5 separate regions of the Homo sapiens genome follow, and regions 1, 2, 3 and 4 are each linked to region 5. Evidence: fine-mapped expression QTL. A gene starts in region 5. Each other region holds a variant in brackets. All regions are shown on one strand. Distances are between the middles of the regions.

What was found.
Region 1: its variant is fine-mapped to the expression of ZDHHC18 in whole blood (INTERVAL, PIP 0.92).
Region 2: its variant is fine-mapped to the expression of ZDHHC18 in whole blood (INTERVAL, PIP 0.95).
Region 3: its variant is fine-mapped to the expression of ZDHHC18 in whole blood (TOPMed, PIP above 0.99).
Region 4: its variant is fine-mapped to the expression of ZDHHC18 in blood mononuclear cells (TOPMed, PIP above 0.99).

Annotation. Positions count from the first base shown.
Region 1 is chr1:26,707,341-26,713,034 of GRCh38, forward strand. All of the region lies in intron 1 of ARID1A (AT-rich interaction domain 1A), which reads left to right. Among named protein-coding and RNA genes, the nearest start is that of ARID1A, 14 kb to the left of the region's middle. RefSeq lists an enhancer at 76-575. The variant C/CAG (reference allele first, on the strand shown) is at 3,188.
Region 2 is chr1:26,852,611-26,858,304 of GRCh38, forward strand. ZDHHC18 (zDHHC palmitoyltransferase 18) reads left to right here. Exons shown (of 8, transcript NM_032283.3): 7 at 143-255; 8 at 1,116-4,994. The coding sequence ends at 1,233. Among named protein-coding and RNA genes, the nearest start is that of SFN, 7.7 kb to the right of the region's middle. RefSeq lists an enhancer at 622-1,123 and silencers at 738-797, 2,370-2,542. The variant G/A (reference allele first, on the strand shown) is at 2,326.
Region 3 is chr1:26,692,385-26,698,078 of GRCh38, forward strand. It overlaps ARID1A (AT-rich interaction domain 1A), which reads left to right and starts at 3,631. Exons shown (of 20, transcript NM_006015.6): 1 at 3,631-5,156. The coding sequence starts at 4,020. It overlaps LOC124900417 (translation initiation factor IF-2-like), which reads right to left and starts at 4,021. Exons shown (of 2, transcript XM_047439473.1): 1 at 3,833-4,021; 2 at 1-3,581. The coding sequence starts at 4,021. The coding sequence ends at 2,895. LOC101928728 (a long non-coding RNA gene) reads right to left here and starts at 1,747. Exons shown (of 1, transcript NR_135804.1): 1 at 1-1,747. RefSeq lists enhancers at 301-815, 532-631, 2,464-3,400, 3,401-4,336 and silencers at 3,315-3,644, 3,735-3,894, 4,265-4,594, 4,645-5,244. The variant G/A (reference allele first, on the strand shown) is at 2,809.
Region 4 is chr1:26,757,986-26,763,679 of GRCh38, forward strand. ARID1A (AT-rich interaction domain 1A) reads left to right here. Exons shown (of 20, transcript NM_006015.6): 5 at 2,871-3,111; 6 at 3,399-3,488; 7 at 4,167-4,334; 8 at 4,988-5,300. Among named protein-coding and RNA genes, the nearest start is that of PIGV, 27 kb to the right of the region's middle. The variant T/A (reference allele first, on the strand shown) is at 2,713.
Region 5 is chr1:26,823,479-26,829,172 of GRCh38, forward strand. It overlaps ZDHHC18 (zDHHC palmitoyltransferase 18), which reads left to right and starts at 3,210. Exons shown (of 8, transcript NM_032283.3): 1 at 3,210-3,661. The coding sequence starts at 3,327. RefSeq lists silencers at 2,992-3,144, 3,108-3,257, 3,268-3,477.

The DNA.
Region 1 (5,694 bases), 120 kb before region 5:
TGGGACTACAGGCGCCTTCCACCACGCCCTGCTAATTTTTGTATTTTTAGTAGAGATGGGGTTTCATCATGCTGGCCAGGCTGGTCTGAAACTCCTGAGCTCGTGATCTACCCGTCTCGGCCTCCCAAAGTGCTGGGATTACAGGCATAAGCCACCACGCCCGGCCTAATGTTTGTATTTTTAGTAGAGATGGGGTTTCACCATGTTGGCTAGGCTAGTCTCGAACTCCTGACCTCAGGTGATCCGCCGGCTTTGACCTCCCAAAGTGCTGGGATTACAGGCGTGAGCCACTGTGCCTGGCAAGGATCCTGACTTTCAAATGATGGCCACCATGCATTTGAGTACTTATTATGTGCTAAGCATTATGCTTAGTCCTCTTGATGAATTTCCTAATTTAATCTTCAAAACTGTATAGGAGGTGGGTTCTATTATTAATCTTCCTCTTTTACAAATGAGGAAATAGAGTAAGATAAGAAATTTGCCCTAGGGAAAATAGCTGGTAAAAGGTAGAGTTGGGTTTGTCTGACAAGGTAGACAAGGTTTGTCTGACTCTTCAAAGGTATTACAATCTAAAATACTAACTTTGCTTCTCCAAAATAAATTACTCAGGCACCAAGATTGTTTAGGACATTATTTTTACAATAGCCTGAAACTCTTAAATGGGGTGAAAGACTGAAAAGCCATTAGTTAACAATTTGACATCGTGCCTAGAGCTCTGTCCTGTCATTCCCTTCCATCCCTTCCACTTAGGGTTTTGTTGTTTTGGATTTCCGATGAATGGCCATGGCACTTGGTTTATAGCTGCCTTGTGATTCCATTGGTGAGAACTGGCAGCATCTGGTCCTCTGGTCCCCGGTCCTCTCTTTCTCAAGAGGGATCTTTTGGGGTTGAGAGTGAGATTCAGCCTTTAAGATACAGTCCTTCACTTTTTTTTTTTTTTTTTTTTTTTTTTTTTTTTTTTTGAGACGGAGTCTTGCACTGTCGCCCAGGCTGGATTGCAGTGGCGTGATCTCGGCTCACTGTAACCTCTGCCTCCTGGGTTCAAGTGATTCTTCTGCCTCAGCCTCCTGAGTAGCTGGGATTACAGGTGCCCACCACCACGCCCAGGTAATTTTTTGTATTTTTAGTAGAGATGGGGTTTCACTGTGTTGGTCAGGCTGGTCCTGAACTCCTGACCTTGTGATCCACCTGCCTCGGCCTCCCAAAGTGCTGGGATTACAGGTGCGAGCCACCGCACCCAGCCAGAGTCTTTCACTTTGATCTGAGTGAAAGTGACTTGAATTATGAAAGTATATGCAGAGTGATATTACTTTTCCAGAAACTTGGAGCACTTGCTGAAGAGGCAGGGATTATTGTCTTTTTTTTTCTTTTGAGATGGAGTCTTTGCTCTGTCGCCCAGGCTGGAGTGCAGTGGCGCGATCTTGGCCCACTGCAAGCTCCGTCTCCTGGGTTCACGCCATTCTCCTGCCTCAGCCTCCCGAGTAGCTGGGACTACAGGTGCCCGCCACCACGCCCGGCTAATTTTTTTGTATTTTTAGTAGAGATGGGGCTTCACCATGTTAGCCAGGATGGTCTCGGTCTGCTGATCTCGTGATCCGCCCGCTTCGGCCTCCCAAAGTGCTGGGATTACAGGTGTGAGCCACCGCGCCCAGCGGATTATTGTCTTAATTTGCCACTTGGGGGAAATGAACACATAAAGTTGAGTGCCACATACAAAGTTTCATAGCAGAGTCATCTCTAAAACCTAGGTTTAAAGTTCTCTTAGGGCAGTATGACTTTAGGTAAGTCACTTCTCTGAATCTGTATTCTCAACTATATAATGAGGAAAAATATCTACCTTGAAGCTATGGTAAATATTAGATATGTGAAAGTACTATTCGTTTATCAAATACAATTCTAACATGACTCCTGATTGGTCAATCCCACAACTATCTCTCCCACTCTCCAGCCGTCCTTTTCAGAAGCAAGCCTCCAGGAGAGTTGATACCACTATTCCCACCTTCCTCCTGTGCATCCACCAATCTACCTCACATTCTCCTCCCCTGCACCCAGCACCCCTGGAATGCTACCACCCTGCTCCAGCCAGGAGGCCAGAAGGGTGATGTAGGAAGATTGCAGCACTACCATGGAAGTTCTCAACAGCACCCCCGACCCAGGACCCCAGGTTCCCACTGGCCCTGCTTCTCAATTCAGGAGAGATAGAATTGAGTGGTTAAAGCTAGTATTGGTCTTTACCGAATTCAAAATTTTCCCTAGTTTTTAGCTACATCTGAGTTACTGTAATGCTTTTTTTTTTTTTTTTTTTTTAAACTAAAATTTGTTTAGAGACAGGGTCTTTCTCTGTTTCCCAGGCTGGAGTGCAGTGGCTATCCACAGGCACAATCATAGCCCACTCTCAAACTCCTGACCTCAAGCAATCTTCCTTCCTCAGCCTCCCAAGTAGCTGAGCTACAAGCACATGTCACTATGCCAGCTATCAGGGCTAGCTTGCTTACTTTTTTTTTTTTTTGGAGACAGAATCTCGCTCTGTCGGCCAGGCTGAAGTGCAGTGGCATGATCTAGCTCACTGCAACCTCCGCCTCCTGGGCTCAAGCAATTCTCCTGCCTCAGCCTCCCGAGTAGCTGGGATTACAGGCGTGTGCCACCACGCCTGGCTAATTTTTGTATTTTTAGTAGAGACGGGGTTTCACCACGTTGGCCAGGCTGGTCTGGAACTCCTGACCTCAGGTAATCCACCCACCTGGGCCTCCCAAAGTGCTGGGATGACAGATGTGAGCCACCGCACCCGGCCTATCAGTGCATTAAAACACACAGGCCGGGTGCGGTGGCTCATGCCTGCCATCCCAGCACTTTGGGAGGCCAAGGCGGGTGGATCACAAGGTCAAGAGATCGAGACCATCCTGGCCAACATGGTGAAACCCCGTCTCTATTAAAAGTACAAAAATTAGCTAGGCGTGGTGGCGGATGCCTGTAGTCCCAGCTACTTGGGAGGTTGAGGCAGGAGAATCGCTTGAACCTGGGAGGCAGAGGTTGCAGTGAGCCGAGATCACGCTTGAACCTGGGAGGCAGAGGTTGCAGTGAGCCGAGATCACACCATTGCACTCCAGCCTGGGCGACAGAGCGAGATGCCATCTCAAAAAATAAAATAATACATACACACACACACACACACACACACACACACACA[C/CAG]CACTTGTTGTTCCAGCTTGAGAAGTGGATTAGTGCAGTGGTTCTCAGTGTGGTCCCTAGCCACCAGCATCAGCATTACTAGGTCCTGTTAAGAAGCACAGACCCTTGGCCAGTCCTATCGAATCCAAAACTCTGTCAATATGTTCTAACAAGTCCTCTAGGCCATTCTGATGAACACTGAAGTTTGAGAACTACTAGATTTATACATTTACACTCAACTGGGCTGCAGAGTATATCCAGATTACCTGAGGGGCTGCTTCTAAATTATACCATAGATTGATGTTTTATGTCTATGTGCCCTCCTATGAAAAAAGTATTAATGAATGGAGAAAAGGTTAAAATGCTTGAGGCTAGGGGAGTGTGTTAGTTTGCTTGGACTGCTGTCACAAAATACCATAGACGAGGTGGCTTAAACAACAAACATTTACTACTTGAAGTCCTGGAGGGTGAGAAGTCCAAGATCAAAATGCTGGCAGATCGGGTTCTTGGTGACAGTCATTTTCCTGGCATGTAGGCAACTGTCTTCTGTCTTCTTGCCGGTCTACCACCCCAATTAATGCCCTCTTAGCCTCTTATGTCTCTTGCTCTTTTTTTTTTTTGAGACAGAGTCTCGCTTTGTCACCCAGGCTGGAGTGCAGTGGTGCAATCTCAGCTCATTGCAACCTCCGCCTCCTGGGTTCAAGCAATTTTCCTGCCTCAGCCTCTCGTAGCTGGGATTACAGGTCCACGCCACCACGCCCGGCTAATTTTATTTATTTATTTATATATATTTTTTAGTAGAGACGAGATTTCACCATGTTGGCCATGCAAGTCTCAAACTCCTGACCTCAAGCCATTTGTCCACCTCAGCCTCCCAAAGTGTTGGGATTACAGACGTGAGCCAGCGCCCCCGGCTCTTGCTCTTATAAGGGCACTAAGCCCATCATGGGGGCACACCCTCATGACTTAATCTAACCCTAATTACCTCCCAAAGGCCCCACCTCCTATTAATAATACCGTAACGTTGGAGGTTAGGGCTTCAACATTAATTTCAGGGTTTCATAAACATTCAGCCAGTAACAGGAGAAGAAAGAAAATACTTTTGAGATGGACCTTTACTAGTGCAGTGATAAGTTCTAGTCACAAAACACGTCTGCTTGTTTATAGGACTTGGGGGCTCCCTGCCTTCCATTTCTCTTTCTCTTAGTTCTTCGGCAATATGGCATGAAGATAATCTGGACCTGTGGTCCTGGGATTTTGATGAAGGTGGGAAAGGTATTTTAAGATCTTGACTGGCAGGGCATGGTGGCTCATGCCTGTAATCCAAGCACTTTGGGATGCTGAGCTGGGCGGATTGCTTGAGCCCAGGAGTTCGAGACCAGCCTGAGCAACATGGCAAAACCCTATCTCTACAAAAACAAAAAAATCAGCCAGGCATGGTGATGCGCGCCTGTAGTCTCAGCTACGTGGGGGCTGAGATGGGAGGATCACTTGAGCAAGGAAGGCTGAGGCTGCAGTGAGCCATGATGGCACCACTGCACTCCAGCCTAGGTGACACAGCAAGACCCTGTCTATATACAGAAAAAAAAATAGGATCTTGACTGTGGTGGTCTCCAAGTATGGCCAATACAGTACACTTTTCCAAGAAAGTGATTCTTGAAAATGCCACTTAAAGGTCAGTGTTGGAGCACTAATTAAATGCCATGATGTCCCTTTTGCCTGTGATGGCTGTCTGATCTGAGAACAGGGCGTTGGGTGATTTGGTGTTCTCACAGTAAGCCTTTATTGACCTCTCTCCCTCACCCCCTACTTCTTAGTGGCCAGTCTGAGTTTTGCTGTGAATTCCTTTCCTTGTGTCTCTTCTTGTGAAGTTTTAGTAAATAAACCCTGTAAGTAGGCCGAGAGCAGTGGCTCACACTTGTAATCCCCGTGCTTTATGAGGCTGAGATGAGAAGATTGCTTGAGCCCAGGAGTTCGAGACCAGCCTTGGCAACATAGCAAGACCTTGTCTCTCTTAAAAAAAATTTTTTTTAAATTAGCTGGGCCTGGTGGCATGCACCTATTGTCCCAGTTACTTGAGAGGCTGAGGCAGGAGGATCACTTGAGCCCAGGAGTTTATTGGAGGCTGCAGTGAGACCTGATTGTGCTATTGGACTACATACAGCCTGGGCAACAGAGCAAGACCCTGTCTCAAATAAAAATAAACCCTCTAAGTAGATTCCTGAACAAGCCACCTCATCTCTGCAGTGAATGAGGACTCTCTGAGGGGTGGACATTTGAGCCAAGACCTGTCTCCAGTTGTATAACTTAATGAATAAGGATTGTGCTTGGCACAGATGTGGGAGTTACAGAAGTGGTCAGGTGATAAATATTAACAGTTTGAAGACCAAGTGAAGAACCAGTGTTCTAATTCATTTGGACTTTCTGAACACCTTATGTGGTTTCTCTGTCCTTCCCATTAAAAACAAGTATTCTGCTACCAGGCCTCTTTTTCCTCCTGCCTGAGAAGCGTAGCTGTGATCACTGGG
Region 2 (5,694 bases), 29 kb after region 5:
AATGGCCCACATGAAAGACATGTCGCCTTCTGTAACCAGAATTGGTTTCGGAATTGTCCAGTTGTCCCCAGCCTCTAGACCTGCCTCCTAGAAAAGTGAAGCAAAAGGAGGTACTTGACCTAGGCCTCCTTCCTGCTTGCAGATCAAAGGCTCGTGGTCCAGCAAGAGGGGCGGTGAGGCCTCTGTCAACCCCTACAGCCATAAAAGTATTATCACCAACTGCTGTGCTGTGCTCTGTGGCCCCCTACCTCCCAGGTAAGTGAGCGGGGTGCGGAAGAGGGGTAACAGGGCCATGCCTGGCCAGTGATCAAAGTGTTCCTGGATATCAGCCGACCTCCCCCTACACCCTAGATGCCCTCCGTCCACTACCCCCTGGAGGGCATTTGTCATGTGACGGAATTCCATGGAGAATTGTTATTTAATCACGTGCTCATTGTAGAAAAAAAAAATTAAGTACAAAACGTAAAACAGAGGAGCATTGGATATGACATGTAATTCTACTCCCCGGGGGTAGCCACCATGACTGTTTCAGCCATGTTTGAATGACACTGCCCTTCCGGTTGCCCACTGCCTGGACTGGGTGGCGACTCCATCCTCTCCTGGCAGTAGGAACCCTGGGGACTCAGCCCTGCTGGGTCACTCCCTGTTCATCCTGACACCAGGGGGCACCAGAGTTCCAGAACGGGGATTACATTGCTGTGGGTACTGCTAAGACAAGTCATTCCCACACAGTCATGTCACCTACCCCACCCAGTATCCCTGTCACCCAGCCTGCCTAGAGGGGAAGGGAACATAGGAATTTCATAGTCATCAAATACCTATTCATCCTTGCTTTCCTCCCTCACCTGCAGCCTGGCTTCTTGGCAGCCAGACAGGTGGGCCAGTTGGAATTAATAGTGAATAAATTCTGTGGCCAAAAGCCAGGTGGCCAGAGGGCAGAGAGAGGCCTGCCAGAGGTAAGAGTCTTGGGCCCCCAGATGGGCAGCAGCTCTCCTTTCCTCAGCCTTTCTCAGCCTGGGCCTTTCCTTGGCTGAGATAGACTCTGCCGTCCAACCCCTGGCCTAGAGCCTCAGTGTTGGGCAGAGCCCTCATGTGTCTCCCTTGTGTTTTGGAAGCCTAATTGACCGGAGGGGATTTGTGCAGTCCGACACCGTGTTGCCCTCACCCATCAGAAGCGATGAGCCAGCCTGCAGAGCCAAGCCTGATGCCAGCATGGTAGGAGGCCACCCCTGACCACGGCTCAGTACTTGCCACCTGCTGGCCTGTCTGACCCTCCGCACTCACCTGCCGGGACCCTCCCTATTCCATCCAAGGGAAGCAGAACTGCCAAAGACTCAAGTCTTTTCATATTTATTTCCCATCCTGCGTGGCTTTCCCTGAACTGTTCCGTGGCTGTGCCCTCTGCTCCCCAAACCCAGGTTCCCACAGCCTTGGGCCCTAGGTACCCCAGCTGATCAGTGCCAGGAGAGACCAGAGCCTCTGGAGGCTACCCAGGGGACCACACCAAGTCCTTGCCTGTGCCGGGCGAGCCCTGTGTGAGTGAGGCTGTGAACTGAGCGTGAGGCCTCCCAGGTGGGGGAACTGCTTGGGCCTTGCTGAGCCAGGGTCCTCAGGGTGAAGCAGGACTGAGGAGTGGCCAGCTCTGGATAGCTGGCTGTGGAGAGGAAGCCTCCATGGGCTGCTTTGGTCTGTGGGCTCCTTCATTCCCTTGGTGATAATTTCCCTTTATTCTGTGGGATTTTTGGTGGGGTTTTCCCCCCTTTTTTATGGAGTTGGCCAATAGGATTGAGTTGGGGCTCCAGTAGAGAAGGCAGGGTTGGTGGTGGGTGGGGGCAGCCTGTATCAGACAAAGGTAAATCAGCCAGCCAGGCACCCACAGCCTCAGCTCCTGTGCAGTTCCTGGGCAGCACAGTGGAAGTGGGAGCCTGGTCCTTCCCCTGCCCATGGAGAGCTCTTTAAGGGATCCCAGCCTGCCCCTCCACTTCTCTCCCAAGCCAGGTCCCGGCATGGGTGGGTTATGCTCATGCTGGCAATACTTGAAACGGGTTTATTAATGCTGGGTATTTTGCACAATTTTATAGACCTCTTTTCTACATAGTCTTTTTTAAATGGAAGGAGAAAATGTCAGCCACATTACTGTCTGTGTAGTGCCAGGTGAAGGGTTATCAGAAGGCTGGTTGGTTTTAATAAGTTTATTCCAAGAGACCTTCTGGCTGGAATGAGTGAGAGTGTGTGTGCATGTGTGTGTGTGTTCATGTGTGCCCTGTATGAATGTGGCTGGCTCCCATATCCCCTGGGCTGCCCCCTGCCCCATCCCCTTTGAGT[G/A]TCAGAAGCACTCTGAGCCAAGGGGACAGGGGGCACGTGCACTGGTCACGAGAAAACCCTGGGCTCCCACTGGGGCTCAGCCCAGCCTCCTATCTTTCCTTCTTCTATGGACTTCAGACAGCCAGTGTCTGGGGACTCTGCCACTCTACCCCCAGCCCTACCCACCAGCCCCCAGGTGAGGCTTCCAGCTGGGACCTGCCCAGACAGGCTGAGCCTGGGCGTGGTGGGTGGGGTGATGGCTCTGGGGAGCGGCTGCCATCCTACAAGCCACACCCCCTCCTCTGAGCTCTGAATATGGGACCCAGTGCCAGGAGCTGGAAGACAAGGTGTTTCTGCCAAACGGGGACCTCCATCCAGAGAAAAGGAAGAAGGTGCAGGGTGGGCCAAGAGGCAAGTGAAGGTTGGCCTGAGTCTGGGCCGGAAACTCAGAGGATGTTTCTCCTCTGCTGGGAGCTGTAGTTTCTTATCAAAATAGATATTGTTCCACCATCCCCCTCCTTGGCCCTTCAAGTGGGCTGAAGCCCTTGGAAAGTGACATAGGAAGTCCCCAGATCTTGCCCTTCTCACTCCAGAGGCTAGTGGTCACAGACAGCTGGGAATGGCAGCCACAGAGGGTCCCCTCTGGGAGAAACAGCTTCACCCCAGCCTCAGGGCCCTGGGCCATCACTGCAGTGGCCCTGGGAGGTGAGGAAGAAGCTGGCTAGAGGAGGGGGCTCCCACCTACCTTTTATTTAAGCCAGTATTCTTTGTTCCTGCTTGTAATAAAACTTCAGTTTATAAGAGTTGCTTTGCTTTGGTTTGGTTTTTGTTTGCTTTTCCTTTGCTGAGGCCCCAACTGGGAGCCCTCTGTTCTTTCAGACAAATTTGGTTCTTTCCTGGGGAGACTGTGAGAAGGCAGGCAGCCCAGTGATCTGGCTACATTTTCCCTCACCTGGCTGGAGCTCTGTCCGCTGGAGGAAGAGCAGAGAGGGCTGCGGCTGAGCCCCCATGGGCACGTGAAAAGAGGCCATCCTGTCCCCTCTTTGTCCCCTCCACCTTCCCCTGCCTCAGGGGCTTGGAGACCCCCAAATTCTTCTTCCCTACTGCCTTTCCACTCCGATCCCCAATGAGTGCCCAGCTAAGAAAATGTTTGAGACAGTAGATTCCAGTTTGAGAGCCGGAGCTTCCCTGGCTACCACCTCCAACCTGGGCACCAGGGCCCAGCCAGACAACTCATAACACTGGCCCACCTCTCTGGTATCTCCCTCAGGAGGACACCTGTCAGGATTTTGCCATCTCCTGCACAGCCTGAGGGGAGCTAACAGGCCTCTTTGCAGAGGGTTAGCTGGTAAGACCGTTTCTTCCCTGTCGGCCAGCACTGCCCGCTCCCCTCACACACCATCTCATCCTCATCGCATGCCTCGCCAACCCCATGGAGCCCGTCCATCTGTCTGGTGTGTGGTGCGGTGTGTGTGCTGGTGGTGGTAGGGTCTCCAGGGACTCCCCGCTAAGCAGAAGGATCGGGATATAGGGCAAGGCTAAAAGCCCAGCCCCATTGTGGACTGAGGAAGTAGCTTCTCGCAGAGCAGCTCTCCAGCTGGAAGAGGAGGTGGAGGGTGAGGCTGGGGAGAGGATGGCGAACCTGCCCTGAGGTGCTTGGGTCTGTGCTGGTGGGGTCCTGGTATGCAGGGGCCACCGGTCACTAACACTCTTATGTCCTGGCTTTCTGTCCCCGCTGAGCTTTCTCTCACCCGCCCGTTTTCTCTCCTGCTTCATTGCCTGCTGCCTAAGCCTTGGCCCTTCTCTCGGGCAGAGGCAGGTGCTGTGGCAGCACCTCTCCCCACCACCGGGGCCCCTGCAGGCCGCCTCCCTCCTCCCAGGCCTGCTAACCCTCTCTCTTCTCCTTCTTTGCTGTCCTGCCGGGGATCTCCAGTGTGTGCGGGGGCTTAAGGACCTCCTGAGGACCGCTGCTCTCTGCCTCTCCAGGAATGGCCTGGGGGGAGCCAGGCACCCGGCACCTCCACCTGCCTAACCTGTGGCCCATCTGCCACCATCTGTGCCTACAGGGTCTGCCCCCCAGCCTGCCCGGCCTGTGTGCTCTCTAGGACCCCCATAGGGGGCAGGGGCTGGCCTCTTTGCCCCATTCCCGCTCCATGCCGGCCAGAGTGTAGAAAGCCATAACGCAGCCATCAGCACAATAATGTGACTCTACGCTGATATGCTCCCTCTCTCCTCCACTGACTTCCCCTTCCCGGATTTGTGAGGTGTCAAGACTAGGAATCTGGCCTTAGAGCCTGCCCCTCCACCCCCTCAGATCAGGCATAGCCATAGTCAAGCCCAGCAGGTTTCCTCAGGAGCTGTCTGGGGTGTTGATGGTGGATGACGCTGCTGAACAAGTTTGGTGACTGTTCTAAGCACAACTGGCTTGATACTGTTCCCACGGCCTGTCCACCTCCCACCCCCAACCCTCCACCAGAGTAGGTAGGATGTAGGGAGGGTGCGTGCCTCCTTTGCTCTAGGCACTGAGGGACCAAGCTAGCCGTGCACAGCCCCATACACTTCAGGGGACTAAAGGAAAGAGCTGAGCCAAGGAAAATCAGCTGAGCCCAGGGCTGGGGGCTGCTTGTCTGCTATCCTGTACCTTTTTTTTTTTTAACCAAAATAAAGATTCCCCTCTTCTTGCCATACCATTGGCTGTCTGGTGGCGCCTTTACTTTGGGGCCCAGGGATGGGACCTGCAGTGGGCGTGTGGAACATATGGCTCCCCCTCGCTCCCAGCTTTCTTCCAGCTGGCCAGTGCTGCTCTGGAGATTTACAAGCACAACGAAGCCAGGAGGGACACAGGAAAAGTGGCTGACATCCTTTTCACTCTGCCCCTCCAGAACTCTTGGTCTCAATTCCAGACACCACCCAGCCTTAGCTGACCTCTGGATTCTGATAGGTCCCAGTGCAGGCTGAGACAGAGGGTTTAACTCCAGTTTGGGACTGCCATACCCATGAACTGAGCCCAGCCCAGGGTAACGATCTCATGGAAACTTCTCTCTCCCCAGTTGCTGCACTACATCAAGATACACACATGTGCATACACTGTACTATGGGCTAAAAAAATAGCTACCGCTACCGTTCAGCAAGGGCTTGCCGAGTCCCGGGCCCATTTTCTCATCTTAACCTGTGAGGAGGATGATGTCAGCCTTTTTACAGATGAGGGAACTGAGACTCAAGGAAGAAACAGGAGCTGCCCAAGGTCACCCAGCTGGCAAAGCAGCAAATCCCAGATCGGAACCTGATCTCTGCCCCGAGCTCTGAGCCATCTGCACTACCCAAGGAATGAATACAGCGGTGGGAGGATGAGATCTTGGAGAAACCCTAAAATTAGAGAATGTCATAGCC
Region 3 (5,694 bases), 130 kb before region 5:
GCAGCCCAAAGTTTTGCAGCTCGCTGTCAGATGGTAGTGCTAGACTTTCACACCGATCCCAAAGCCTCCGCTGGGGCTGTTTCTTAACACGGAGTTACAAACTTTAAGAACAGACAGCTCCAGACGGAAATCCACGCCAGGCTTTGAACTCTGCTTCTGGCTTCCGTCAACTGACATAGTTGCCCTTTTGCTCAAACTCGCAGCTCCAGTTCGCACTCGAGAGAGCTCTGCTGGGTGTCTGCTGCTGTTCCGCGGCGGGAACGTGTGGGGGCAACAACCTGGCGCTCCAGCGATTCTCCACGCCTTAGTTAGGAATCTAAGCAAACCCTCGCTAGGGTCCCTGGGCTTAAGACGACTTCTCCCACAAGGATTGGGTGGAGGAAGGAGCCGAGCCCGATCTTCTGTTTGTTTGTTGAGTTTTGTATTTCAGACATTTAGGGGAAGCAAATTGCGAGAAAGGAAGGGCTGTCTTCCCTGCAAACGTTTCCCTCTCCTAGCAAACCCTCCAGGCCTCGGTTCCACATTTTGCAGTTGACTCTCTGGATTTTAATAGGTTGTTCCCTTGTCCTCGGGCCCAATCCATGCACGCTGTGCAGCCGGATAAAATGGGAGCACATCCTCTGCCATTTTCAGCCGGTTTGTCCTGGCAGCCCTGCCCCCTTCCTTGGCTGCTCTGCCGCTGGAGTTAATACGCCCAGAAACTCCGCCTGATCCTCCAGGCCTCAAATCCAGTCCGCGTTTGCTAAGTGCCGTGCGGTCGGGGACGGCGATAAGAACTCTCCTGTGAGGGAGAGCTAGCGAGACTTTAGTCCGGTTTCCATGTCAACGATTCAGTCCATATTTGCCATCAGGCTGTTGGCCGAGGTGCTTTCGCGAGGGTAGCGCTGTCCTAGTCCTAGTTCTCCAATCTGCGCCGGGATTCCTGAGCTGCCTGGGTGTGGGGTTAAAAGGCAGGGGCCGTGGGGGAAAAAACTCCACCGAAGGGAGGACCCACTGCCCCCAGCCGGGGTCTCGCTGCTCGGGCCAGCCACGTGCCCAGCTCCTCCCCTCCCCCGCTTTCCCGTTGCCACTGCCCCTAGGGAAAGCTGATGGGCCAGTTTCTAAAAAAGTTCCCTCAGCCCAACATTTCCTGGGATCGTGGTGTGGGGCTCTAAAAGTAAAAGTGGAAGAGAACCCTAGTGAATTAAAAAAAAAAAAAAGTAGAGAAATTCCACATTATCTCCTCCAACCCAGGTGGATAGATTTTTGTGCACTTTACCTTATTGCTAGAGAAAAATGGTGACTGTTTTCAAAACAGCTTGCCCACGTGTAGGGAAGGAGATTTTTGGCGCTTTCCATATTTCACAGCCATTGAAGAAAGGGGATGAGGGCTTTCTTTGGAGAGAAATCCATTCTAGCTTCCAGATTTTCACTGGGCTCCAGGTTTCCCATTACACCCCAGCTCTAAGGAAAATGGCAGAGTAATGGCATGTAAAAAAATCCTCATTTGTGTGCAGGACTCAGGACTGTTTGCCAGCTCAGGGGCAGTTGATTAAATAGCCAAGCTCTATTTATGAGGCAGCCTATAATTTGGTTTCTAGGACCTAATGCACCGGGGAGAGTTGTTGCCCCTGAGGACTGTGAGTGAAAAGAGGGCACTGGCCCATACCAGTCAGTCGGATCTTCTTGGTAGGCTGGTTTGGTTCTTGGCTTGAGGCCGGGGGAGGGGAGAAGAATAAAACTGTGGGATTTTTTTTTTTTTTAAATCTCATCACTCTTAGATTAACAGGAAGGTTTTGCCTTTCTGGTGTAGGATGCAGTAAGTTTTCTTGGGGAGAGAAATGAGTTCAGGCTTTGGAATTATTCATAGTGACCAGGGACATTGCCAGCACTCCCGGGTCCTGCATAATCTAAGATAATGCTCCTGTGGCCATGAAGTCTCCCTTTACAAAATCTGAGGGGGAAAAGAGATCCTGGTGTCTAGGAACACTGGCCTGGGCCTTTCCCAAGGCAGCCTTGGGTCTGGTGAGGAGCTGGAATCCCCTCTGGCTTTTGTAGCCTGTCATATCAGAACATTCCAAGTCAGCCTGAGGAAGAAAAGGCTGCTGCTGGGATTTGGTGGGGCCTGTAGATCAGGAGAACACTGGAGCTTTCTGTGTATGTCGATCTTTTCAGATAAACCTGGCCTTCTACCCAACTCCAGCTCAATCGGGGTCTCTTAGAATGTAATGGTAAACTTTAAACAATCTTTACGCTACAGGATAGAAAACAAATCTGACAAGCATCCATTTTCTAAGTGACTTGTTGGACTGTGCCTTTTCTTCAAGGAGAAAATGGTTTCCATTTTCTGCATCTCTCTTCTGTAATGGTTTGAACACTCAGGTTCCTGCAGTCCCTGGAGCCTCTTCTGTGGGTTTTCAGTATTAGAAGGTACTGTCTTTGGAGACTGGGGCTACTTGTCATGGTAGGCTAAGTTTTCTTAAGAGGGAGTGAGAAACGGTGTTTAGGTTTTCCTGCTGGGTAACTGTTCTATGCTCCTAAAGCAACTTCAGTGGCCTCCATTTTAAGTTAGTGGTGAGATGATCAGTTTTGACTTCAAATCCATTTTGATATTCTGATCCCATTGTTGAATGTGCTCACAACTTGATTTTTTTTTTTTTAAAGGCAAGTAGACCGAAGGCAGCTTTGGTGACTCCACTTCTTTTTAAAGTCACCCTCCTCTGCCCTCTGACTTTAAGTGACAGGCAGTTCCCTCCCCTCTCTTTCAATTCTGTAAAATGGGGATAATCCGGACCTCATGCCCCCAGAGCCTTGTAAGGACCGGCTAAT[G/A]AGGGCAGGCGAGTGGGAAACGAATCGTCTGAACAATGATCAGTCATTCTTTCGGGCTTGCAAAGAGGGTAAAAAAGGTTGGGTCTTTAGCGGGGTCCGTAGAAGGCTTTGAAGACGAAAAGTGCTGTAGAGGTGCTAAGCAGCAGCCAACGGACCGGGCCCGCTGCCAGGGGGTCAGGGCTGGGCCGAGGCGGCCGCGGTCTCAGGCTCTGGCCAATTTTGCAGCCGCGGGTAAAGTTCACGCTGCCCGCTCCCCTCGGTACGGCCGGGAGGGGACAGACCTGGATAGGGACGCCGGGAGGGAGGCGGCGCAGGCTCCAGAGATGCGCGGGCTCCGGGCCGGGTTTTCTCCGAAGCCTTCGGCGGCGGCGCTGCCTAGCGAAAGCGGCTGAGGGCCTGCCGCCGCCGCGGCTTGTTCTCTCCCCTCCTCCTTTGTGAAGGGAAGGGAGCGAGTCCGTTCCACGGCCTGCGCCCGCTCCGCTCTCCACTCCGGGTTTGCCAGGCGGCCGCGACGGCGCTGGGTAAAATGGCAGTGCTGAGCCTCGTGTCGGAGTGAGGGGGACTCGGAGGAGAGTGGGGCGCTCTAGCCGCTCAGTCCGGCCGACCGCTTGCTCGCCCGCCCGCTGCCGCGCAGCAGCCTCGACCCAAGCCGCAGCTGGCGAGGGGAGGCAGGGCGCCGGGCTCGGCCCGCGCTCTGACTCTGGCTCCCGGCGCCCCGGCTGCTGCCGCGCGCCCTCCAGCCCGCCCGTCCCGGGTCCCCCTCCCCCCGCTCCCTCCCTCCCTCCCCGCCCCCTCCCCCTCGCCTCCCTCCCTCCCTCCCTCCTCCTTTCTCCGGCAGCAGAAAGCGGAGAGTCACAGCGGGGCCAGGCCCTGGGGAGCGGAGCCTCCACCGCCCCCCTCATTCCCAGGCAAGGGCTTGGGGGGAATGAGCCGGGAGAGCCGGGTCCCGAGCCTACAGAGCCGGGAGCAGCTGAGCCGCCGGCGCCTCGGCCGCCGCCGCCGCCTCCTCCTCCTCCGCCGCCGCCAGCCCGGAGCCTGAGCCGGCGGGGCGGGGGGGAGAGGAGCGAGCGCAGCGCAGCAGCGGAGCCCCGCGAGGCCCGCCCGGGCGGGTGGGGAGGGCAGCCCGGGGGACTGGGCCCCGGGGCGGGGTGGGAGGGGGGGAGAAGACGAAGACAGGGCCGGGTCTCTCCGCGGACGAGACAGCGGGGATCATGGCCGCGCAGGTCGCCCCCGCCGCCGCCAGCAGCCTGGGCAACCCGCCGCCGCCGCCGCCCTCGGAGCTGAAGAAAGCCGAGCAGCAGCAGCGGGAGGAGGCGGGGGGCGAGGCGGCGGCGGCGGCAGCGGCCGAGCGCGGGGAAATGAAGGCAGCCGCCGGGCAGGAAAGCGAGGGCCCCGCCGTGGGGCCGCCGCAGCCGCTGGGAAAGGAGCTGCAGGACGGGGCCGAGAGCAATGGGGGTGGCGGCGGCGGCGGAGCCGGCAGCGGCGGCGGGCCCGGCGCGGAGCCGGACCTGAAGAACTCGAACGGGAACGCGGGCCCTAGGCCCGCCCTGAACAATAACCTCACGGAGCCGCCCGGCGGCGGCGGTGGCGGCAGCAGCGATGGGGTGGGGGCGCCTCCTCACTCAGCCGCGGCCGCCTTGCCGCCCCCAGCCTACGGCTTCGGGCAACCCTACGGCCGGAGCCCGTCTGCCGTCGCCGCCGCCGCGGCCGCCGTCTTCCACCAACAACATGGCGGACAACAAAGCCCTGGCCTGGCAGCGCTGCAGAGCGGCGGCGGCGGGGGCCTGGAGCCCTACGCGGGGCCCCAGCAGAACTCTCACGACCACGGCTTCCCCAACCACCAGTACAACTCCTACTACCCCAACCGCAGCGCCTACCCCCCGCCCGCCCCGGCCTACGCGCTGAGCTCCCCGAGAGGTGGCACTCCGGGCTCCGGCGCGGCGGCGGCTGCCGGCTCCAAGCCGCCTCCCTCCTCCAGCGCCTCCGCCTCCTCGTCGTCTTCGTCCTTCGCTCAGCAGCGCTTCGGGGCCATGGGGGGAGGCGGCCCCTCCGCGGCCGGCGGGGGAACTCCCCAGCCCACCGCCACCCCCACCCTCAACCAACTGCTCACGTCGCCCAGCTCGGCCCGGGGCTACCAGGGCTACCCCGGGGGCGACTACAGTGGCGGGCCCCAGGACGGGGGCGCCGGCAAGGGCCCGGCGGACATGGCCTCGCAGTGTTGGGGGGCTGCGGCGGCGGCAGCTGCGGCGGCGGCCGCCTCGGGAGGGGCCCAACAAAGGAGCCACCACGCGCCCATGAGCCCCGGGAGCAGCGGCGGCGGGGGGCAGCCGCTCGCCCGGACCCCTCAGGTACACAGCTGAGTGGGGAGGGGGCTGGGGCGAGCGTGGTCCTGGGGGTGGGTGGCGGCTGCGGTGAGCGGGCCACAGCCTTGGGCTCCCCTCAGTCCCGGGCCCCCACTGCTGGGGAGCTGCCATTGTCTGGCTCTTCTCTCTTAAAATGGCTGCCTGTCTGCCTTCCTCTCCTTCCCTCCTTCAGCCTTTGTGTTGGGTTTTTCCAGAGGTGTCTGCTCCTCTTTTTCCTCTCCCCTGGTCCCTTCGAACTCCAGGGGTCTTGATGGGGGTGCGGGGCAGAGTGTGCGGGGAAGGGCCTGGCCGGGGGTGAGGGGGTGAGGGGGCGCTGGGGGCTCAGGTTAGGAGTGTAGGCAGTGGTAGGAGCCCAGGAGTTGAATGAACGTTTCTTTGCTCACCTGCCGCTCCTCTCCGTCCCCCGGCCTTCCTCTGGGCCGCCCCCCATCTGTGCTTTCAAAGAGGGCCCCTAGAGCTCGAGGGGACCTCGAGGGGAGGGCAGGGGACTGCTTGGGAGCTGCTAGAGGCCGGCTGCGGTTCA
Region 4 (5,694 bases), 65 kb before region 5:
ATGGATGGATCCCTGATTCCTATTCTGTTCTGAAATACACTTCTTTTTCCTGTAAGCAGGAAAGTTCTTATTACCAGAAGCTGGCAGTTTGATAAGGAATGGAGACTGTAGGAAGGAGTGGGTGAGGGAACCTTCTGGTCCCTAAAACAGCATTGAGCTGTGGAATTTGCTATATAGACTGTAGGGCCTAACGAGTGCTTCTTGAGACCCTTTCTACTTACAGTGGCTCTCCTTGTCATCTTGCTGCCTCTTTTAGTTTGTTCTTGGCTCAGAGGCTAGATGTCCATGGTATAACTTAGCCATCAAAACAGGGATGGGGCTGGGCACAGTGACTCATGCTTATCATATCAGGAGTTTGGGAGGCCAATGTGGGAGGATTGAGCCCAAGAGTTTGAGACCACCCTGGGCAACATGGCAGAATCCCTTCTCTACACACACACAAACACAGCCAGACATGGTGGCGCCTGCCTGTACACACACATACAGAGCCAGATGTGGTGGTGCGTGCCTGTAGTCCCAGCTACTCAGGAGGCTGAGGTAAGAGGATCACTTGAGTTGGGCAGGTTGAGGCTGTAGGGAGCTGGCATCATGCCAATGTACTGCAGCCTGGGGTAACAGAGTGAGACCCTGTCTCAAAAAAAAAAAAAAAAGAAGAAGAAGAACCAAGGATGTAATCCCTCTATCTTGGGATTAACATGGGGCTCTTCATAGCTCCAGGTACTTTAGTCCTTCGAGAAAGGAGGATGTCCTTTGCTGTTACCTTGTGGTTGGCCTCTTGAAATCATTCTATGCTGGAACGAATTCTCATTGCATTTTTAAAGTATGCTATGGCATACCTGGCCTACTTCTTACCAACAAGAAAGCTAGCATTTTCTGACTTCTCAGCTAACATGGAAAGCTGGACACAGGCACAAATGCACACCTACCTACCTGCCTTCAGAGCAAACTTTGTCTCCAAGAGCTCAGCAGAAATGCTCCCAGCCTAATGAGGTACCCAAGTGGTTTGTGGAAGGTCCACCCAGCTTGGATACTTGAAGGAGAGCCTAAAAGCTGCCCTCTGACCTCCAGTGTTAACTGTCAGATCTTAGGGTCAAAGTCACTTTCAGCCGATCTTTCCCGGGTGAGCTTGTTTGTGTGAGCAGGAATAGACTCAAATCAAACCAACTTGGATCTCCTCCTCCTTGAGATGTGTGGTGTTTTCGGTTTTGTTTTTGTGTGTTTGTTTGTTTGTTTTTGAGATGGTGTTTTGCTCCGTTACCTATGCTGGAGTGCAGTGGTACAATCTCGGCTCACTACAGCCTCCTCCTCCTGGGCTTAAGTGATTCTCCCACCTCAGCCTCCCAAGTAGCTGGGACTACAGCTGCACACCACCACACCTGGCTTATTTTTGGGGGTATTTTTAGTAGAGACAGGGTTTTTGCCACGTTGCCCAGGCTGGTCTCGAACTCCTGGGCTCAAGTGATCTGCCCGCCTCGGCCTCCCAAAAGGCTGGGACTACAGGCATGAGCCACTGCGCGTGGCCCAGTGTGTTTCTTTAAGAGAACTCTTTATTTACCATTTAAGTATCAGGGTTTTCATCCTTTCTTCAATTACAGTTAGTTCCCAGCCTGAAGTAATGTTGCTAGAGAATGAACATGGGGCAGGGGATGGAGTTAGGGTACATTTTCTGGGGTGAATATTTTTCATATTGAGCTCCTGTTTGCTAATACTGGAGTTTGTTGACCTAGAGTGAACTCTTTATTGATTAACTGAAGACAAGCAAAGCCTACAAACAAATACCAAGTTCTCACTGAAAAACATAAAAGCTGGGAAAAAAACAGAATTTGTTCAATTGGCAAACATTTGTTGATTACTGTTATAGACCAGGTGTTAGGAGTGTAGTCCCAGACCTTCTTGGCAGTTAAGAAATTGTCTTTCTCATCCAATGTCTCTCTTTCTTACCTCCTACCCCTTATGTTGCAAAGTATGGTGACTTGGAGTGAGTCCTTGGCAAATGGAGGCTGTGATAATCTATAGTAATAATCATCATTGTAATATATAATAGAAGGAGAGGGGATCTATAAATGTTTCCCAAACTTGTTAACATTCTCTTGTAGCTCCTGGTGCCATCCTGGCAGCATTTTGTAAAGTTTTGCTATTAGAAAAGAACTAAAGCCTCACTGAAATAGTTGCTTTCTTATGACTGTAGAAGTTATGACTGGGAAAGAAGACAAAAGTGCTAGATCTGCTTCTGAGGGGATAGAATAGGAGTCAGCAAAACTCAGTCACACCATTGTTTGTATATTGTCTGACTACTGTTGCACTATAGTGTCAGAGTTGAGTAGTTTTGAAGGAGGCTTTATGGCCCACAAAGGTCTAATATATATTCCACCTGGTCCTTAACAGAGTTTGCCATATGTAAGTTATAGTATGATGACTAGGGCCGGGCGCGGTGGCTCACGCCTATAATCCCAGCACTTTGGGAGGCCAAGGAGGGTGGATCACCTGAGGTCGGGAGTTCAAGACCAGCCTGACCAACATGGAGAAAACCCGTCTCTACTAAAAATACAAAAATTTAGCCGGGCGTGGTGGTGCTTGCCTGTAATCCCAGCCACTCGGGAGGCTGAGGCAGGAGAATTGCTTGAACCCAGGAGTCAGAGGTTGCGATGAGCCGAGACGTGCCATTGCACTCCAGCCTGGGCAACGAGTGAAACACTGTCTCAAAAAAAAAAA[T/A]TTTTTTTTTTAATAAAAATAGTATCATGACTAAAGAACGTGTGTGATGTATTTGCTCTTGGTTGTTTAAGGAAAATGCTAAGCAAGTAGTAGGATTATTGAAAGTAGAATCTTTCTGCCTAATATTACTAATCCATGTTCTTATATATATGTTCTAGGATCTATCTGGTTCAATAGATGACCTCCCCATGGGGACAGAAGGAGCTCTGAGTCCTGGAGTGAGCACATCAGGGATTTCCAGCAGCCAAGGAGAGCAGAGTAATCCAGCTCAGTCTCCTTTCTCTCCTCATACCTCCCCTCACCTGCCTGGCATCCGAGGCCCTTCCCCGTCCCCTGTTGGCTCTCCCGCCAGTGTTGCTCAGTCTCGCTCAGGACCACTCTCGCCTGCTGCAGTGCCAGGTACCCTCAAGTGCTGGGCTTTAGGGAGAGGGAAAGGTGACTGCCCCCAGTAATATTAAGGAGCCCTAGTCTTCCACTGGCAGAGAAAGCATCTCTGGCTCATGCCTGCATAGTTTCCCCTTAGCATTTGGAGAAGGAGATTGGAACCTGTTGGCTGGATCTCTTTGTGTGTGATACTGGGAGGTACTTGGCCTCTTCATGAGCCATTTCTAGCTCTGAATTAACTTCCTAGTTAGAATTCCCAGGCTTAGCCATGATATGCTTATGTTGTTCTTTGTCTGGAGCAGGCAACCAGATGCCACCTCGGCCACCCAGTGGCCAGTCGGACAGCATCATGCATCCTTCCATGAACCAATCAAGCATTGCCCAAGATCGAGGTGAGAGCCTGGGTGTTGGGGAGGGGCAGGGAGCTAGGGCAGACATTTGAGTGCCCTATGCAGTAGCTTTTGGAGAGCTGTTTGACCATGAAGCTTAGGACAATCCCTGCAGCAAATTGTTTTTATATTCTTTAAAAGTTGACGTAATAATTGTACTCATTTATGGGGTACATAATGATGTTTCAATAGAAGTAACGTATAGTGATCAGATCAGGGTAATTAGCAGATATATAATCTCAAACACTTATTACTTCTTTGTGCTGAGACCCAGCAGCAAATTGTGAAGTTAGAGTGGGCTTGGCCGTGTTAATGTCTCCATTTCACAGTACTTGTCTGTGTTTTGATGGTTGCCCCCTTACATTTTGCCTCATTTGGTCGGCAGTTGCTGAAGACTCAATGTTCGGTCTTCACTCATCAAGTCATTCATTTTGGTTTTTGTCATTGTTCTTTGTCTTTTCAAACCTCCATTTAGTAGAAACAGCTGGCATGCCCTGGTTAATGGTTCATGTCACTCTGAAGGTGCCTAAAATGACACACCACTATATAGAAAATCAGATAGAGACTCCATGCAAGTGGCTGCTAAAGAAAATGTAGATGGTAAAGTCCCAGGATAAGGATGGAGAGCATTTGTTCGCATTGTATAAAGCTAATAACTATATGGATGCTACCCACAAATAGGTTATATGCAGAGGAACCCCCAGATGCCCCAGTACAGTTCCCCCCAGCCCGGCTCAGCCTTATCTCCGCGTCAGCCTTCCGGAGGACAGATACACACAGGCATGGGCTCCTACCAGCAGAACTCCATGGGGAGCTATGGTCCCCAGGGGGGTCAGTATGGCCCACAAGGTCAGTATACTACCCAGTTAGGAGTAGATACGGGTGAGAGGAGAAAACAGTTCCTTGTCTGATATGTTGCCATCTAGCTTGTAACCTTGTGAGAGAAGGGCTGTCCTTTGCCTTTAATCCACCCAGCCCAGGCCCTGAAGTAGGGCAAGGCAAGATTCCATTTGTCTCCACTTATTCTGTCACCATGAGAAAGTCTTTCAATTTCACTGAGCCTCTGTTTCATTTATAAAAATGGAGATTAGGTGTTTACTCCACCATTGAGCACAGACAATTTATACATGGTAGCTCTTGGTTATTATTTTTTTATTAATTATTTTTAGTGAATAAGTCATAATGGAATAGATCTTTGCTCAAAATTGCAGCCCTAGGCTGATCAAAAGTTGAGAATCTTACACAGAGCATGGAAATAGAAAGGAAGTTATCTTCTTCTGGAAGTTGAAATGCCTGTGTGGCAGCAAAGCCAGCCTTGCTCTGACCTGCCTTTACATGCTTCTGGAATCCCCCCCTTTTTCTCATGGCGATAAAGGCTACCATGAAGTTGATCTCTTTCCTAACCAAAATATTGAATGACATTGTTTGGTGTTCTAGAGTTGAGAGATATTAGTGAGTTGCTAGTGAGTGACTAACCAAGTCTTGTCTTCCTCCCCTCCCAGGTGGCTACCCCAGGCAGCCAAACTATAATGCCTTGCCCAATGCCAACTACCCCAGTGCAGGCATGGCTGGAGGCATAAACCCCATGGGTGCCGGAGGTCAAATGCATGGACAGCCTGGCATCCCACCTTATGGCACACTCCCTCCAGGGAGGATGAGTCACGCCTCCATGGGCAACCGGCCTTATGGCCCTAACATGGCCAATATGCCACCTCAGGTTGGGTCAGGGATGTGTCCCCCACCAGGGGGCATGAACCGGAAAACCCAAGAAACTGCTGTCGCCATGCATGTTGCTGCCAACTCTATCCAAAACAGGTAAGGCCTGGGAAGCAGAGAGGGTGTCAGTGCAAGAAAATGTATTATAGACCCACTCAGATTATTGAGATGCTTCTGGACCTAAACCAGGGGGGGAAAATGGGTGTGTGTGTATGAAGTGTTAATTCTTACATACCTTAGATGGGTCTGAAATTTCACGTGACTAAACATCATATGTAATGAGCTTTATAAAAGACAGGTTTTTGGCCGGGCGTGGCGGCTCATGCCTGTAATCCTAGCACTTTGGGAGGCCAAGGCGGGCAGATCATGAGGTCAGAAATCAAGACCAGCCTGATCAACATGGTGAAACCCCGTCTGTACTAAAAATACAAAAATTAGCTGGGTGTGGTGGCGCACGCCTGTAATCCCGGCTATCGGGAGGCTGAGGCAGGAG
Region 5 (5,694 bases):
GGGATGGCAGGCATGTGCCACCATGCCCTGCCTGGTAGCAACTCTTTAATATGATCCTAATGATAATGAGAAAGATAAATCTGAACTAAGGTGAGAAGGTAGCCAACCATGGGAAGCTCCATTGGGTTTTTTAGGGTTTTCTTTTCTTTTTTTCTCGAGACGAAGTCTTGCTCTGTCGCCTAGGCTGGAGTGCAATGGCATGATCTCGGGTCACTGCAACCTCCGCCTCCCAGGTTCAAGCAATTCTCCTGCCTCAGCCTCCCGAGTAGCTGGGATTACAGGCGCATGCCACCATGCCCAGCTAATTTTTTGTATTTTTTTAGTAGAGATGAGGTTTCACCATGTTGGCCAGGCTGTTCTCGAACTTCTGACCTTGTGATCCACCCGCCTCGGCTTCCCAAAGTGCTGGGATGTGAGCCACCACGCCTGGCTTTTTTTTTTTTTTTTTTTTTTAGACAGGGTCTTGCTCTGTCACCAGGCTGGAGTGCAGTGGCGTAATCACAGCTCACTGCAGCCTTGACTTCCTGGACTCAGGCAAACCTCCCACCACAGCCTTCCAAGTAGCTGGAACTACAGGTGCATGCCACCATGTCCAGCTAATTTTTAATTATTTTTGTAGAGGTGGCATCTCGCAATGTTGCTGAGGCTGGTCTTGAACTCCTGGGTTCAAGCAATCCTCCCACCTTGGCCTCCCAAAATGCTGACATTATAGATGTGAGCACTGCGCCCAGCCTTGCTTTTTAATTGATGTAGAATTGAGCATGTGTTTGCGGTATTAATGAACAGGAAGAGAGATAGGACATGAGTTTGGAGTTCTATTGGGCTTAAATAAATAAATAAAATGGAGTTCCATCAGCCTTACTTAAAAAAAAAAAAAAAAGAGGCCAGGTGCAGTGGCTCACACCTGTAATCTCAACCCTTTGGGAGGCCGAGGCAGGCGGATCATCTGAGGTCAGGAGTTCGAGACCAACCTGGCCAACATGGTGAAACCCCGTCTCTATTAAAAATACAAAAATTAGCCGGGCATGATGGCACATGCCTGTAATCCCAGCTACTTGGGAGGCTGAGGCAGGAGAATCACTTGAACCCAGGAGGCAGAGGTTGCAGTGAGCCGAGGTCATGCCATTGCACTCCAGCCTGGGTGACAAGAGCGAAACTCCATCTCAAAAAAATAAAAAATAAAATAAAATAAGGATATGAGTGGAGGGTTGGCCATGGACAGAAGGAGGCCCACATCTTCTAAAAAAGAAGAAAGGACAGATGCAAATAAAGAGAAATTATGAGATAGAGAGGAGGTAAACTGAAAATCCAGTAGGATTGCTTTGGTTTCTGTAAAGTGACGAGAAAAAAGAAAAGGTTTCAGGTTGCAAGAGGACCCAGTTAAGGTGGGACAACAGGAATCTGTACTGGAACCAGTATGTCTAGTTTTGTGACTTTGTTCCACAGCCAAGGAGCAAAAAGGGAGGAAGCTCACCATGTGGTTTGCTCAAGATGGGGCTCATCATATTGAGAGCCTTTGGCACCAAAGGCACGGCTGAGCAGCCTTTGGCATATATATCAATTATTGATCCTTAAGGTCACTGTTGTCGGCTTCCTACTCCTCCCCATTGTATATTTTTACTTCCTTTTTTACTTTCTCCTAGTCTCCAGTTCTTTTTTTCCTTGCACTTTTCCTTAGGTTTTACAGTAACCACAGTGTGACAGACATACCCTAAGCTGACCCCCAATGATTCCTGCCTCCTGGTATTTACGCCTTGTGTGATTCCCTTTTCTTGAGTGCAGATGGCTCCTGTGCTTTGCTTTTAACCATAGGAGATGGCAATGATGATGGGATGCCACTCTGTCACATATATAGTAAGTTATATAAAACTCTATCATCATAGTCTGGAGCTAGAGACCCTCATTGTCAGTTTCAAGAAACTAAGTGGCTATGTAGGAGAAACCTGCATGGCAAGGAAATGTGATAATCTCTAGGAACTGCAGGTGGCTTTTGGATCCTGAGAGAGGCCTCCAGCAGACACCCAGCAAAAATCCCAGGCCCTCCTCAGTTATACAGTCACCCAGCAAAAATCCCAGGCCCTCTTCAGTTAAACAGTCGCAAGGAAGTTAATTCTGCCAATAACCCAAATGGGCTTGCAAGTGGATTCTTCCCTGGCTGAGTCTCCAGATGAGAATGCAGCCTGATTGCAGCCTTGTGAGACTAAGCAGAGGACCCAGCTAAGCTGTTCTCTGGCTCCTGACCTGGAACCTGTTAGATAACGTTTGTTTTTTGTTTTTTTTGAGACGGAGTCTTGCTCTGTCACCAGGCCGGGTGCAATGGCACAATCTCGGCTCACTGCAACCTCCACCTCCTGGGTTCAAGCAATTCTCCTGCCTCAGCCTCCCGAGTAGCTGGGACTATAGATGCCGTGCCACCATGCCCAGCTAATTTTTTATTTTTAGTAGAGACGGGGTTTCACCATATTGGCCAGGATGGTCTCTCTCGACCTTGTGATCCACCCACCTCGGCCTCCCAAAGTGCTGGGATTACAGGCGTGAGACACCGCGCCCGGCCGATAATGTTTGTTTTAAGCCTTAAATTTGTGGTAACTTGTTACACAGCAGTAGAAAATGAATACTCCCAGAATTCCTGAAAAAACACTGGGGCCCTCAGGCATGACCCCTCTACATTATGTGCTACCTAGGAAAATCTGGGCCTGGGCCCAGGACACAGAACTTGGTGAACGAGGCCAGAGGGTGTGCCACACACCTCCAGTGGGCACTCTGGACTTCAAGGTAGAAGAGGTCCTGGCTTTCAAAGCAAATCGTGTGCCCCACCTCCCCGCGCCTGCCTGCCTCTGCAAATGCCTGTCAGTTCGACCCTCAGAGATGGGCGAAGCCTGGGGAATTACAGACTGCCAGAAGTAGATCACGAAGTCCACCACCTGAATCTCGGCGTTTGGCACCGTGCCTGGTACACAGTGGACGCCCAACAAACGGCTTGCTTGCAGAACAGAAAGAGCCCTCGAGTGCGCGTCTGCTGGCCCCCTCTTTGTGCAGAAGGGAAAAGGGAGACTGGGAGGGCCGGGGACCTGCGGGGCCCCGCCGCGGGTCAGAGCTGGGCCTCCGGCCAAGCGCCATCCCGGGCCCAGGCGGAGGGGGCGCTGCGGCGGGAGGCCGCGGCGGGCGGTGGCGGCGGGCCGGGGGCGGAGCGATGGCGGGGCCGCCCCAGTGAGTGAGCGAGCGAGCGCCGCGCGCGCCGCCGCTGCCACCTCCGCTGCTCGGCCCGGTCCCGGAGTGGCCCGGCCGGCCCGCGGGGCGCGGAGCCGAGGCCCGCGGCTGGCTGCATGAAGGACTGCGAGTACCAGCAGATCAGCCCCGGGGCCGCCCCGCTGCCCGCCTCCCCGGGGGCGCGCCGTCCCGGCCCCGCCGCGTCCCCGACTCCGGGCCCCGGGCCCGCGCCGCCCGCCGCCCCCGCCCCGCCGCGCTGGAGCAGCAGCGGCAGCGGCAGCGGCAGCGGGAGCGGGAGCCTCGGCCGCCGCCCACGGCGCAAGTGGGAGGTGTTCCCGGGTCGCAATCGCTTCTACTGCGGCGGCCGCCTCATGCTGGCCGGCCACGGCGGCGTCTTCGCGCTCACGCTGCTGCTCATCCTCACCACCACCGGCCTCTTCTTCGTCTTTGAGTGAGTTCCGCTGCCTCGGCGCCCCCTCCCAGCCCCCTGCCGCGCACCCCACCTTCCCAATCCCTGCTGGGCACTCCGTGCCTTCCCCTTCGCCTCCCTGGTCCTCATCCTCCCCGCCCCTTTGGGATCCTCCTCGGGCCTCTTGTCTGCCCCCCTGGCCCCTGCGCACCCCCATCCCCGCCAGATGCCCCATCCTCCTTGGTCCATTTGGGTACCCCATCCGCGCTGGTGCCCTCCACCCTCCCAGCCCCTCCATTCTCCCTGACCCCACCCTGGCACCTGTCTGCCTGCCACTGCCAGGAACACCAGCCTCCATGCCCCTCCACGGCCCCCATCCTCGCTGCCCTCTCAGAACCTGCCCCAGGGCTTCTTGAACAGGCCCCTCCTGCTCACCCATCCCTGGACCATCTCTTGCCAACCCCCCAAGTTCTTTCTGACCCTTGTATCCCTTCCTGACCACTTCTAGATCTTGTGTGTCCTTTGGCTGTGCACACCCACCATAAACATCCTAGTCATCCTCGCTGCCCTCTCCGGGTCCCTCCAGGGTCCCCTCCTTTTCTCTAGTCTCAGACACCAACCCCGCTTTTGCTTCCCCTCAGCCACGCACACCCTAGGCCCCAAGGCATCTTTTCTCAAAATCTTTGGGCCTCTCGGGCCCCCTTTCCTTCTCCAGAACCTTCCTTAGGTTCTCCAGAGCTTCCTGTCCTTCCCTCAGATCCCGCCCGCCTCCACCCAGCCGGCTCCCAGGCCCCTGGCCCCCCTGCTGACCACCTGGCTTTCTTTCCCTGCTCAACATTCTGGAACGTCCCTCTGGCCTGTTCCACATCAGCAACAGCTGCGGTGCCTTGTTGTTTTTCAGGAAAGACTTCGGAGTGCTTTCGTGTGACAGGTCATATTTGCCCCCCTAGGTTTTTGTCCTCTTCATATCCCCCGGTGACCCAGGATTGGCCCACACATAATCTCCATTTTATGGATGGAGGGTCATATATTTGTATTAGAAGTTTTCCACCCACCTCTGAGCCACCTGCACTGTGATTCCTTGCACACACACTCACACGCCCACCCACCCACCCTTGCTTCATAAGCCCTGCTGTCCCCTCCCAACTCCCCATCCTTTGTGGTTGTTCCTCTTAATTATACAGTGTAGTTAAGAACTCTAACAGACCTGGTTCAAATCCCAGCTCCACCACCCACTAATTGCGTGACCTCAGGGCAGTCACTTCACCCCCTCAGTGCCCCAGTTTCCTCATCAGTAAAATGGGATTTATAATAGTACCCACCCCGTAAGGTTGTCCTGAGGGTGGCATGAGGTCACACATGCAAGCTTTTAGCCCAGTAACAAGCACACTATGTTGGCTGCTATTAGTACTTGTGTTGTCTTTATCAAAAAACACTTCCCAAGGGCATGTGGCCATGGTAAGGCTATCATAGAGACACCCGCCCCCAGGTACCCTTTCTAGCTGCCAGATCATGTATCTGCAACTTTGGGTTTCCCCTTGAAGCAAGGTGAAGACTTCCTATAAATTAGCTTCTCCCTTTACCCTTTAACCACACACTCTGCCCTTTTTTTTGAGTAGGGTGGATAAAAAGTTCAGGGATGATTTACAAGCAGAAGCTCTGGGGGGCCCAGAGCTCAGCTCTGGGCTGAGTTTCAGATCCACTTCCCTGGGCTGGCCACATGAGTGTTTTGGAAATGCCTTTTCTAGTATCCCCTGGGCTGCCCTCTCAGTCCCCACACCCAGGGCTGCAGCCGAGGCAGGAGGAAGCAGTACTTGCCGTGGTTGACCCACATGACCCTGCAGTGTGATATCTGGCCTAACTTCTGAACTAGAAGCAGGACCTTCTCTGGGTTGACCGGGTATCTTCACTGGTGACTGTTTTGTCCCCAGCGAGGGAGAAAGCAAGGACTTCTGGGTTTGGGGAGAGCTCGTGAACCATGTTGCAGTTTGTCCCCGCTTGTCCTCATTGGGGGCTGGTAGATTGGCAGAAGAGTTTGGGTTTGGGCCGAGAGCTCACCTGGGTCTGGACTGGAT